Homo sapiens: one gene and its partners. The main gene of each other region encodes a partner of the protein of the gene in region 3 in a complex. Each region holds a gene or a part of one and is shown on either strand. Other genes may lie near its edges. The genes, in order: HDAC2, EZH2 and RBBP7.

Region 1 (3,747 bases), on a different chromosome or scaffold from region 3:
TTTTCCTCTTTACTCCAAGCCCTGACAAGGATAAATCTCTAAACTTTAGAAACAATGTAATTTTACAAATTAACTTATACGCAGGGTTACTTCCTTTCCAATTTGATCAGGGAATGCAGGGCAAGAATAACCCAAAATATGCAATGTAAATCATGTTGAAATTAAAATGTATTTCCATCTCCACCCCTCCACGATGGCATAATTTCAAATCAACTTATATAATGCATATCTAGTCCTCTGAAAAATCATTTTTAAAAGTAGGGCTGTTATTATTCTGTCCTAGCTATCGCAGATCAATTTAGATTTGTTCTGTAAGATTTCAGATTTTCCCCAAATGACACAGGTGGTTATTTTATATGTATCAGTCATTAAAAGATTAATCCTTTTTAACTAAAAAGAGACAGTACGGTCATTTACAAGTTAAAGTAGATTTATTCTGAGCTGGTGCTCTGGGGTCTTACTTCTCTAAAATTTTGTGATTTACAATACACCACATGTAGGAAACAGCTTCCAAAATTTGTATTGCTTCCTACAAATCAGACAGGACTTTCAGGAGAAGGAGCCTAGGATAGATTCTCTGTTAAATTTTGGAATCCCTTCTCTCAAGAGTAACCTACTATAAACTATTTACCAAGCCTTTGTGAAATCTGTATAACAGGTTACTACTCCATTGAGCAAGAAAACACAGGAAACAGGATTCGAAGATTTAATGTTACTGCTCATACTCCAAATTATAGAATGCTTAAGATAATTAAATTATCTGACTTTTATAATTCACTACACGGTGACCTCAAATTTACCTCATTAGAATATTTAGTACTTCTGCACTTCTCCCACTTCTCAAAGTTTTCCCATACCAGGATTCCCCACCACCTAGGAACAGCCTTTGCAAGATACCAATGCTCTCTAAATCCCCAAAGCAGGGTCTATTTCCTGATCGAACAAAGAGCAACAAAGAAGTGGGTGGTAACCACCTCTCTGAGGCAAGCCAGGACCCATGGAGTCTGATCTACAACACAAGCAGTAGCAGTTCCACATCTCCCTACCACCTCTTATTTCCTACGAAGTCTTTCTGCCTGAAACTGGAAAACCCGAACTATTATTGAGGAAGTGAAGCCCTTCCATTTGAATCCTGAGAAAGACGCGCTCAAAGAACCCAGCGAACAAAGGAGAGGGTTGGAGCCCACGCAAAACATGGGTGTGATAAAGCCACACGCGACCTGAGCCCCCACCCTCAGTAACTACTCTCCAGCGCCCACCGGGAGGAGGGGTCCGGGGAAAGGGTAAGCCGAGGAAGGAGAAGACGCTCCGGCCAGACCGAACGCAGGGTAGGGGAGGCGAGCAGGCGAGGAGGAGGGAAGGGGACGGGAGGGGCGGAGCTCTCGCGGCCGCGGGGCTTTGTGTAGAGTCAAGGCCGGGATAGAAATTTTGCCTCGCGGGGGACGGGTCGAGGGGGTAGGAGGCCGACGCGGGGCACCCCAAACCTGCGTTGCCACGAATGGTGGGCGGGAGAAGGGAGAGAATGGGCCGCCCCCTTCGCCGCCGCCACCACCAAGGCGGGGTAGGCCGGCGCCGTCCCCAGCGGCGGCCACCTTCGAGGCTGCGGACTGCACGGCCGAAGGGGGAGAGGCAGGAGACAAGACGGGCGGGCCCCCTGATTCCCGCCCGCAGGAACCGCGGGGGCTGCGCCAGGAAGAGGGTCTCGTTCTAACTGTGCCGGGCCGGGAACGGGTTAAGATGCGGCCAAATGTCGGTCCCTCCTCCTTCCCACCCCTCAGCCCCGGCGCCCACTCGCGACGGCAGCCGCGGAACCCAGCGCCCGGCCCCGCGCGCCCACCCCGACACCGGCCCGGCCGCTCACCGTCGTAGTAGTAGCAGACTTTTTTTTTGCCGCCTCCTTGACTGTACGCCATGGGCTCCCCGGCCACCGCCGCCACCGGGCTCCTCCTCCTGCTGCTGCTGCTGCTGCTGCTGCCGCCGCGGCTCGGCCGGGAGAGAAAAGGGCTGAGGGAAACGTGGGGGCGATAGTCCCGCGGGGAAGGGCAGGCCGGTGGGAGGAGAGGAGGGGGCGCCGGGAAGGCTCGGTACCACCCGGCAGAGGTGCCGAAAGCTCGGAATCGGAGGTGGCAGCGGCACCAACTCGCGAGGAGGGGGCCACCAAACCACCTCAGGAGGCCGCAGGGAGGTGAGCGCATCCACTGCGGCCTCCACGGGGGAGGAAGGGGCACGGCTGGAGAAGGAGGCCGTTTCGGGCTCGAGGTTAGAGGCCCTGTTAGGGTGAACAACCTGCGCAAGGCGGCGCCATACACAGTGTTAAAATGAGGAAGAAGACAAGCTTTCGCTGCGCAAGTAGATCCAGGGAGCGTGCAGCCGGGTGGACGTTCTCCCCCTCAGGTCTGCGCGCAGTGGTTGCGCCTGTCCCCGAGCCTGCGCAGTCGGCGCCTCGTAGCCTTGGCGGTCTGGACCCCTCCTCGGCGTCCCACGCTGCTCCCCTCCCCCACTGTCGCGAAGCTCCCGCCCAAGCCGACCACGTGCCGCGAGCCCGGCGGGGAGAGCCCACTCCCGCGCCCCTTCCGGGCCCACTACCCCGCCGGGCTGTGGCCCATCGCCCCAGTGCCTGGTAGCCTAGTTTTCTCGTTTGTCGTTTGTTCACTTATTTATTATTATTATTATTATTTTGACTCGTAATGGGTATGAGGTGTAAGGGGGCCTATTACGGATGTTAAGGGGAGAGGGCACCGCTCGGGTTTTAATAAGCATCTGTGGAGCTCATTTATAAGGTACAGTTCTAAGCACTTGCATTTATAATATATTCCATTGATAATCTATTTATAATATTTAATCTCATTTAAGACTCTCAACAACTCTAGGAGGTAAGTGGCAATTGTACTCCTTCTTTATAGGTGGAGGCAGATTAAGGAACTTGTTCTTACTGCTAACTGATAAGTCTGGAGGTTTGAACTCATTCTGCAAACTCCACGCACCCTAGCTGTTCCACTCTGCAGCAATGCTGCTGGCTAGACACTGGAAGATTGGAGCAGAAAGACTTTCGAAACTCTTGGAGGTTATGAATACAAGTGTTCCTCTGTTAAATAAATCCACATTTATCAAGTACCTACCTTAAGCCAGCCACCTTGCAGGTGAGGGCTGGAGGCTAACAGCCTGTTTTATAGCACCCAATCCCAGTTATATAAAATTGCTATCCCTACCCCCCAAATACACCCCTATTAAAAAAAAAAAAAGGCTGTATTGATGCTGGAATTTAAGAGCCACTACCAAAAATACCCCTTTTAATTTGCTGTTTGACTTCAAAATCCCGAAAGTGTTCATGCTTAAAGCAGCAATTTTCCCCAACCTCACCCCCAAGAGATTTAGAAAAAGTTAAGTCCAGGGTGGCCCCTGCCCTCCCTCCGCCCCCTCCTCTGTATTTTTAACAAGACCCCAGGTGACTGATGAAGTTGCTAGAGAAATTACGGTGAGTGAAACACTGGCCTAGAGGTAAAGTTAATTGACCTTCTAAGTTGTGCTCTATCAAGTACAAAATCAACTTGGAAGATTCTGAGAACAGAATAAGTGAATTTAGTAGAAGTGAATGTTCTTCCCCAGGGCCAACACAATGAAGTCTGAAATGACACTTTGTTTCTTTTGGGAAGACTTCCCTGACCCCTCTCCCGCCAAGACTGTTCTCCATGCCATGTACGTTGTATGCTGTAGCTCAACACTTAACCATGTTGCAGTTGCCCACAA
Region 2 (3,747 bases), on a different chromosome or scaffold from region 3:
CGACAGTGTGAGACTCCGTTTCTTAAAAAAAAAAAAAAAAAAAAAATTCTGGCTAGTTATTAAATTCATTAAAAATATTTCTTCAGATTTTTACCCCAACAGTTCATAGGTGACCTTTTTTCAGTTTCCAGTATGAACTCTCAATATGGAATCTCAGTTTACATGACAATGGTATTTTACCCCATAGATACATCCTAGTAAAAATAAATTCGGAATACTCTTAACTGCATTGCCACATGAAGCAATAGGAGAGACTGTATCCTAAGCAGAATCCCTCTAATTCCTCTGGGTTGAGGTAGCTTGACCCCCCATAACCAAGATCAATTTTTTTTTTTTTTTTGAGATGGAGTCTCGCTCTGTCGCCCAGGCTGGAGTGCAGTGGCGTGATCTCGGCTCACTGCAAGCTCCGCCTCCCGGGTTCACGCCATTCTCCTGCCTCAGCCTCCCGAGTAGCTGGGACTACAGGCGCCCGCCACCACGCCCGGCTAATTTTTTGTATTTTTAGTAGAGACGGGGTTTCACCGTTATTAGCCAGGATGGTCTCGATCTCCTGACCTTATGATCCGCCCGCCTCGGCCTCCCAAAGTGCTGGGATTACAGGCGTGAGCCACCGCGCCTTGCAAATATCCTCACACTTTGCAGAGGCGGCAAGTGAACAGTGCTCATCTTGATAAAGGATTTTTAACACTGACACGTGCTTAGAACTACGAACAGTGGAAGGGTCTGAAATGGCAGCAATGTCGCCCTTTCACAGGTTTCTAGGGCGATAAGCACTGCAAGCTCGGCCAGCCAAAGTCCAGCGGTGGGGGAAAAAACGGCCAAGGCAGCAGCAGACATAATCAAACAGGGCCCGGGTCGGCGGCGGTGGCTCACGCCTGTAATCCCAGCACTTTGGGAGGCCGAGGCGGGCGGATCACCAGAAGTCGGGAGTTCGAGACCAGCCTGACCAAGACCCGTCTCTACTAAAAATAGAAAATTAGCCGGGCGTGGTGGCGCATGCCTGTAATCCAGCTACTCGGGAGGCTGAGGCATGAGAATCGCTTGAACCCGGAAGGCGGAGGTTGCGGTGAGTCGAGATCGCGCCATTGCACTCCAGCCTGGACAACCAGAGCGAAACTCCGTCTCAGGAGAAAAAAAAAAAAGTAGTAACGGGTCCGGCGGCAGCGCGCGGGCCGGGCGAGCGTCTCCCGGCAAACGCGGCGCCACAGCTGAGCCGACCTCCGGGGCCCGCGCCCTCCCCTCCCCGGGCACCACTAGGAGCGGCCAGCCCGGGCCTCGGCTCCGCGCGCGGGGAAACGAGCGCGGCGGTTAAAACCGTTACCACCCCCGAGTTTTGAACTGGTTCAAACTTGGCTTCCAGCACCCGCCCCGCCCCTCCCCCGCCCGGGAACTCTGCGGCGCCGGTTCCCGCCAAGAGCCGCCGGCGCTTCGTCCCGCCCTTCGGCCGGTTCCCGCCACCTATCCTCCCCGCCTCCCGTCCGCGGCGGGCTCCGGGCCCCCGCGATGTCTCCCGGTCCCCGCGTGCCTGCACACCGCCTTCCTGAGAGGCGCCGTGTGTTCAGCGAAAGAACAAAGAGACGGCGGCGGCGCTTCCACACGGCCAGTGGCGTCCCTTACAGCGAACCCCGCCGCCGCCCGCGCGCGCACGCGCTGCCAGTGCCCGCCCGCCCACGAGCCCTGAGCGCACTCTGCGTGGGGCTGGCTCGGCGCCTCCGAGCCCGGCGGGCCCTGTGATTGGACGGGCGCCCGCCTCGCGTCCCGCCAATCGGGGCGGCGCTTGATTGGGCTGGGGGGGCCAAATAAAAGCGATGGCGATTGGGCTGCCGCGTTTGGCGCTCGGTCCGGTCGCGTCCGACACCCGGTGGGACTCAGAAGGCAGTGGAGCCCCGGCGGCGGCGGCGGCGGCGCGCGGGGGCGACGCGCGGGAACAACGCGAGTCGGCGCGCGGGACGAAGGTAACGCGCCGCTGCGGGCGGCCCGGCCGGCGGGGCTCCGGGAGTGCGAACCGGGCGGCGGCGGCGGCGCCAGGACCTCCCCGCCACTGCTGTGCCGGTCCCGGGTATCGCCGAGCGGGGCTCACCGGGGCGCCGCGTTTGTAGGCGTGCGGGGGGTGGAGGGTGAGGGGAGAGCCCCCCTCCCCGGAAGGAGCTGTGAGCTTCGGGCTGGCCCGCGGGACCCTGCGAGTGAGGCAGCGCACACCCCTGGAGCTGCGGGGCGGGGGGCGTGTGGGGGGCTCCTTTCCCGGTGCTTGTCCTGGCCGGGGCGCCGGGGCCGGGGTCGGGGCGTTCCGGTGCCCGGTCCAGGGTGGCAGCTCGAGCCTCAAGTCTCCTTTGTGTGGCGCGGCCGCGGCGGGAGCGCCCGGGTGGGACGGGACAGACACAAGTTGGTGGGACCCAGCCGCCGAGTCCGCACTCAGACAAAGGACGGACTGTGTCTCCGGAGGGCTCGGCGCGAGGGGAAGGGGCATGACACCCGGGCCCGCCGGCGGGCGGGAGAGGGGCGTGGGGAGGCGCGGGCCGCTGCCGGGGTGGGCAGGGCTCGGCCCTCGCCTCGCGCACGCCCCCGGTCCCGGGCGCGCCGACCCCGGGCTGGGGCCGCGGCGCTCGCGGGACGACGTTCGCGGCGGGGAACTCGGAGTAGCTTCGCCTCTGACGTTTCCCCACGACGCACCCCGAAATCCCCCTGAGCTCCGGCGGTCGCGGGCTGCCCTCGCCGCCTGGTCTGGCTTTATGCTAAGTTTGAGGGAAGAGTCGAGCTGCTCTGCTCTCTATTGATTGTGTTTCTGGAGGGCGTCCTGTTGAATTCCCACTTCATTGTGTACATCCCCTTCCGTTCCCCCCAAAAATCTGTGCCACAGGGTTACTTTTTGAAAGCGGGAGGAATCGAGAAGCACGATCTTTTGGAAAACTTGGTGAACGCCTAGTGAGTTGCCACTTTCTAAAGAATCGTAATCCTTAAACATTACAAGCTGTTTTGGCCAACTTGTGTGATACATCTGAGAATGGCGACAGGTGCTAACGAAATCAACTGTCATTCAGCCAGATTATTCCCCAAATCCCGACGGGTTGAATGAGGATGAGGTGGTAGAAGTAGGTGATCAAAATAGAATGGCTATGACAAATGTGTGTTTAGATTATACGGTTAGCAGTTTCTTATTAATTGGTCTCGTTTTCTGTGAACAATAGCTTTGGTGATTCAGAAAAGACTGCATGGAGAAATGTTTGTTGCCTAAGAAATTTAACGTGTGCTGTCCACAGTTAAACTTCCTTTATCACACAGGATCTGTAACATTTAAATTCATTTGGAAATAAAAATGTGTCTTTGCTATTTACTTAAAGGCTTGCTTTTTAGGGTTCAAGCAAGTTATTATTAGTTTAATTTTGTGGCGTTTTGATGTCATCATAAAACAGCATTTAATAAACCTTTGAAAAACACGAATGCTGTCACAATTGAATGTAGTTTATACTTTTAGGGGTTTTGGAGTTTATTTTCTATTACTCTTCATAAGCATTAGCAACTAATTCATGTTTAGGAATACTGTACAAGTGTGTAATCCTAACTTGTTTATTTGTAATTTTATTTGCAGGAAAACAAGTATTTAAGATATATTTTAATTTTCTATTCATGGTCTCTAAAGTTAGGAATAGGTAGGATTCTAGTCATAGATATAAAGCGTCTTGTTCTCTCTTTTCGGAGGTGTGTTGGGTGATGTAATATTTAAGGTTTCCCGGAAACAGGAACACTGCA
Region 3 (3,747 bases):
AGAATTAAAAGGTGAAATGTATAGTTAAAAAAATCTACACATAAACTGATGTGCAATCCCTATACTTCACTCAAAGCCTGTTGCATCCCAGGAGTAAAATATAATTACAAATCAGTACTATAGATCTGTCTAAAGATATGGCAATAAAACTTTGAGAAATGTGTAAGCCAAGGAAATGTTTTTATGGTTTTTCTCTTAAAAACTTCAATTTGTAGAATTTGCCAGTGCTCAACAGTGAAATCACTCTTTATGTATCAATATCAGCCCTGTCCTTATACCTAGCCCAAAGACTTTAGTAGTAACAACTACTAAAAAACAAAACCCAGCCCTCCAAGTGAGACATTTTTTTCCTTCCCACAAAACTAACCAAACAATCTCAAACCTGTGGGATTGCTAGACAATACTTATCTTCCACCTGTCAGTATAGTTGCTAAAACTCACCATTTTAATCCCAAATTTTATCTAATGTAATTTTACAATTTTTTGTAGAGACAGGGTCTATGTTGCCCAGGTTGGTCTCGAACTCCTGGGTTCAAGCGATCCTCCTGCTTCAGCCTCACAAAGTACTGGGATTATAGACATGAGCCGCCATGCCTGGCCCCCTATCTAATGTAATTTTAATATTAAACAAGCTAAGAAATAATTCTAAGAAGAAATTACACACAATGCTCACAAATTATTGGCACCTTCAGGGGCAATTCAGTTGCCAGGGCATCAGACTTCCAAACCTTGCTGTACGCTTCATACAACCTCTTTATAGTTTTGATTTAGGTTTTATTTTACTACTAAAATTGTTTTTAAATCAAATACAATGCCCCCAACTGTCTGCTTTAAAGGTTTTCTACATCTTCAAGTATTTATCACGGCAAGAGTTTGCTCCATCAGAACCCTGAACATTAGCTATTTTAAGTTTTACATACAAGCATTTTATTCTCCAGCGTCTCTTCTATATACTGAGGATTACTGCCTCTATAATTAAGGCAGCCTTGGTTTTAATATATAGGTTGAGCATCCCAAATCCAAAATGTTCCAAAATCCAAAACTTTAAGCACCACGTGACACTCAGAATTTGGACTTTCACACCGAGTGCAATGGCTCATGCCTGTAATCCCAGCACTTTGGGAGGCCAAGGCGGGAGAATCACGTGGGGTCAGGAGTCTGAGACCAGCCTGGCCAATATGGCAAAGCTCTGCCTTTATTTATTTATTTTTTTAGTAAAAAATACAAAACCGGGCATGGTGGCTGTGGCAGTGCTTGTAGACCTGTAGACCCACCTCCTCGGGAAGCTGAGGCATGAGAACTGCTTGAACCTGGGAGGCAGAGGTTACAGTGAGCCAAGATTGCGCCACTGCACTCCAGCCTGCGTGACAGAGCAAGATTCAGTCTCCAAAAAAAAAAAAAGAAAAGAAAAGAAAAGAAAAAGAAGAAGAATTTGGACTTTCAGTTCAGATTTGAGATGCTCAACCAATAAAGTATAATGCAAATATTCCAAAATCCTAAAAATTCCAAAACCCCAAACACTTCTTATTCCAAGTATTTTGGATAAGGGATATTCAACCTGTACTAAATTCAGTCCACTTCAAAGCAATATATTTAATACAAGCAGGAAATAAGTTATTTTTTGGTAATTTTATGATTTAAACTTAAGATGACATCTTACGGAGGAGTATGTAACTGAGCAACTTTATTAAGTTCTAAAGGCTCAGATGAACAAGTAAAGGAGTCTAAAATTCTTAGAACAGCAAGTCTGAACTAAAGGAACTTTAAAAATTGGCAGAAACTCTTTATACAATGAGGCCCCAGAGAACATAAGCTCTCTGACAGCTTGGGCTGTCCTTGTCCCCTTCACAAAGGTCTCCCCAGCAGTTACACAACCCACAGCAGGAGTGCACATCTGCAGAATGAATCACTGAAAGCAAAGTAAATGGTACAAAAACCCAGAAAAAACAGTCCTGCCTACACGTACTGAGATCCAATGAGACATAAAACAGCTAACATCTTGATTTCTCTATATCAAGTGTGTTTTAAATACAGTCATTTGAATGCAAAAACAAAAACAGACACATACACCTTCATGCCTGAATATTAAGAGACAAAACTCACACTAGAGAAATTTATTTTATGGTCCATTTGCTGCTTCACTTCTATTTTACAGAACAAAGGCTCTTTAGGAAGATGCTTAGAAGTTTCTTTAATATTAGGTTTCTTGAAGGGGGGATTACCAAATTGCTTTTCTAGTTTATGAATGACTATGTAACTTGCCAGATAGGCACATTTATGCAGTATCTTGTCACAGGACTGTAAGTTACCTTAAATCCCACACATTCAGGCGGCGGTCAGTACCACTTGAAGCCAGAATAGTTTCATTATGTGGAGACCAGTGGACCTAGTAATAGATAATTTTGAAAATGTATTTAAAGAATCATCCGCTGCTAGGTTTGTGGCTGTTGTTCTAATCTGATATTTTCCCATCTTGCACTCTATTATCTTATCCTTGGCCTGATGGCCTCACTCTCTTGTCCCCGACTTTCAAGTGCTCTGCAAGGGCTCAGCTCCATCCTGTCCTCAGGAAGGCTGCACTCCCCAGCACTGAGGAACTCAGCCTGGGATCTCAATAAATTTATTCGACCCCATAACCATCCCAGAAGCTTTTTAATTCTTCAACAAGGTGTACCTTACCCTATGAGCATCTCCATGTAACACCACGTACAAGACATTTTTTTCAATAGTGGACCCACGAGTCTGGTATAGCTTAACTGATGAATCCCTGGATTTCATTTCCTGACATACAGACACCAGAAAACTGTCACATACCTGGAAAATTTCATCTTTATGAGATTCGAAGGTATGGAGTTTTAATTTTAAGTTACGCAGATCCCATAAAGCTACGGTCTAAAGAAAAATAACAAGTGAAAATGATTTCTATGCTTTACCTAAGAATTTTCAAATATCTGATTAAGGCACAAGAGAACTGGGTTTTATAAACACCAAATAATGCAAAAACTTCGAAACCTTATCCGCAGAGCCGGTGGCTAGAATAAATTCGCTGTAGGGATTGAATGAGAGGCAGTTGACTTCGGCAGTGTGCGCATCCACCAAGTGACTCGGCTTGGAGGTGGTATTGGACCTGGTGTCCCATCTAAAACACAAAGGTAAAGGCACACGGCACCCAGGGATGACACACTCACATTCGGCCTCACATCACTGTCACTGCACTCCACAACTAGCTCCACTATGTGCTCCCCTTCATGAAGAAACCAACCACACAGCTGGTGATTCAGACCTCGACCACTAAATGATACATTCGAAACCTACAGAGAACAAGCTAGGGCTGTTAGTCCTGTTTTTTAAATTAGATTCCTATTTTAATTACCAACTATTTCAAGTGTACACAAAATACAGACTATGTAGAGAATAATGTCACAATCTGATACCTAAAACTAGTTTTGACAAATGCCCAGTATTTTGTCACATTTGCCTCAGGTATTTCTTTATAAGATTATAAGTGAATGAAGCCCTGTGGCCACACCTTGATGAAATCATTTTCCTCCTCGACCTCCAACTGGCATCACTCTGGATCTCAATTTTGATATTTACCACCACACCAAGTATGTTCCTTCACATGTCCATACCTAGTTTTCTTTTTTTCTAAATAATAAGTGATCCTCCCACTTCAGCCTCCTGAGTAGCTAGGACTACAGGTGCACACCACCATACCCAACTAATTTTTTGTTTTTAAATTTTGTG

What was found.
Region 1: RBBP7 (region 3) and HDAC2 share a complex: the UniProt entries of both Homo sapiens proteins name them as parts of the core histone deacetylase (HDAC) complex.
Region 2: RBBP7 (region 3) and EZH2 share a complex: the UniProt entries of both Homo sapiens proteins name them as parts of the PRC2/EED-EZH2 complex.

The regions. Positions count from the first base shown.
Region 1 is NC_000006.12:113,968,996-113,972,742, forward strand, and holds the start of HDAC2 (histone deacetylase 2), read right to left. Parts: upstream 2,154-3,747; 5' UTR 1,914-2,153; coding exon 1,862-1,913; intron 1,735-1,861; exon of another isoform or gene 1,485-1,734; intron 1,284-1,484; exon of another isoform or gene 706-1,283; intron 1-705. UniProt on the Homo sapiens protein: Histone deacetylase that catalyzes the deacetylation of lysine residues on the N-terminal part of the core histones (H2A, H2B, H3 and H4).
Region 2 is NC_000007.14:148,882,372-148,886,118, reverse strand, and holds the start of EZH2 (histone-lysine N-methyltransferase EZH2), read left to right. Parts: upstream 1-1,827; 5' UTR 1,828-1,955; exon of another isoform or gene 1,956-2,183; intron 2,184-2,633; exon of another isoform or gene 2,634-2,922; intron 2,923-3,747. UniProt on the Homo sapiens protein: Polycomb group (PcG) protein. Catalytic subunit of the PRC2/EED-EZH2 complex, which methylates 'Lys-9' (H3K9me) and 'Lys-27' (H3K27me) of histone H3, leading to transcriptional repression of the affected target gene.
Region 3 is NC_000023.11:16,849,737-16,853,483, forward strand, and holds part of RBBP7 (histone-binding protein RBBP7), read right to left. Parts: intron 3,140-3,747; coding exon 3,013-3,139; intron 2,893-3,012; coding exon 2,815-2,892; coding exon of another isoform or gene 2,680-2,814; intron 2,387-2,679; coding exon 2,310-2,386; intron 1-2,309. UniProt on the Homo sapiens protein: Core histone-binding subunit that may target chromatin remodeling factors, histone acetyltransferases and histone deacetylases to their histone substrates in a manner that is regulated by nucleosomal DNA.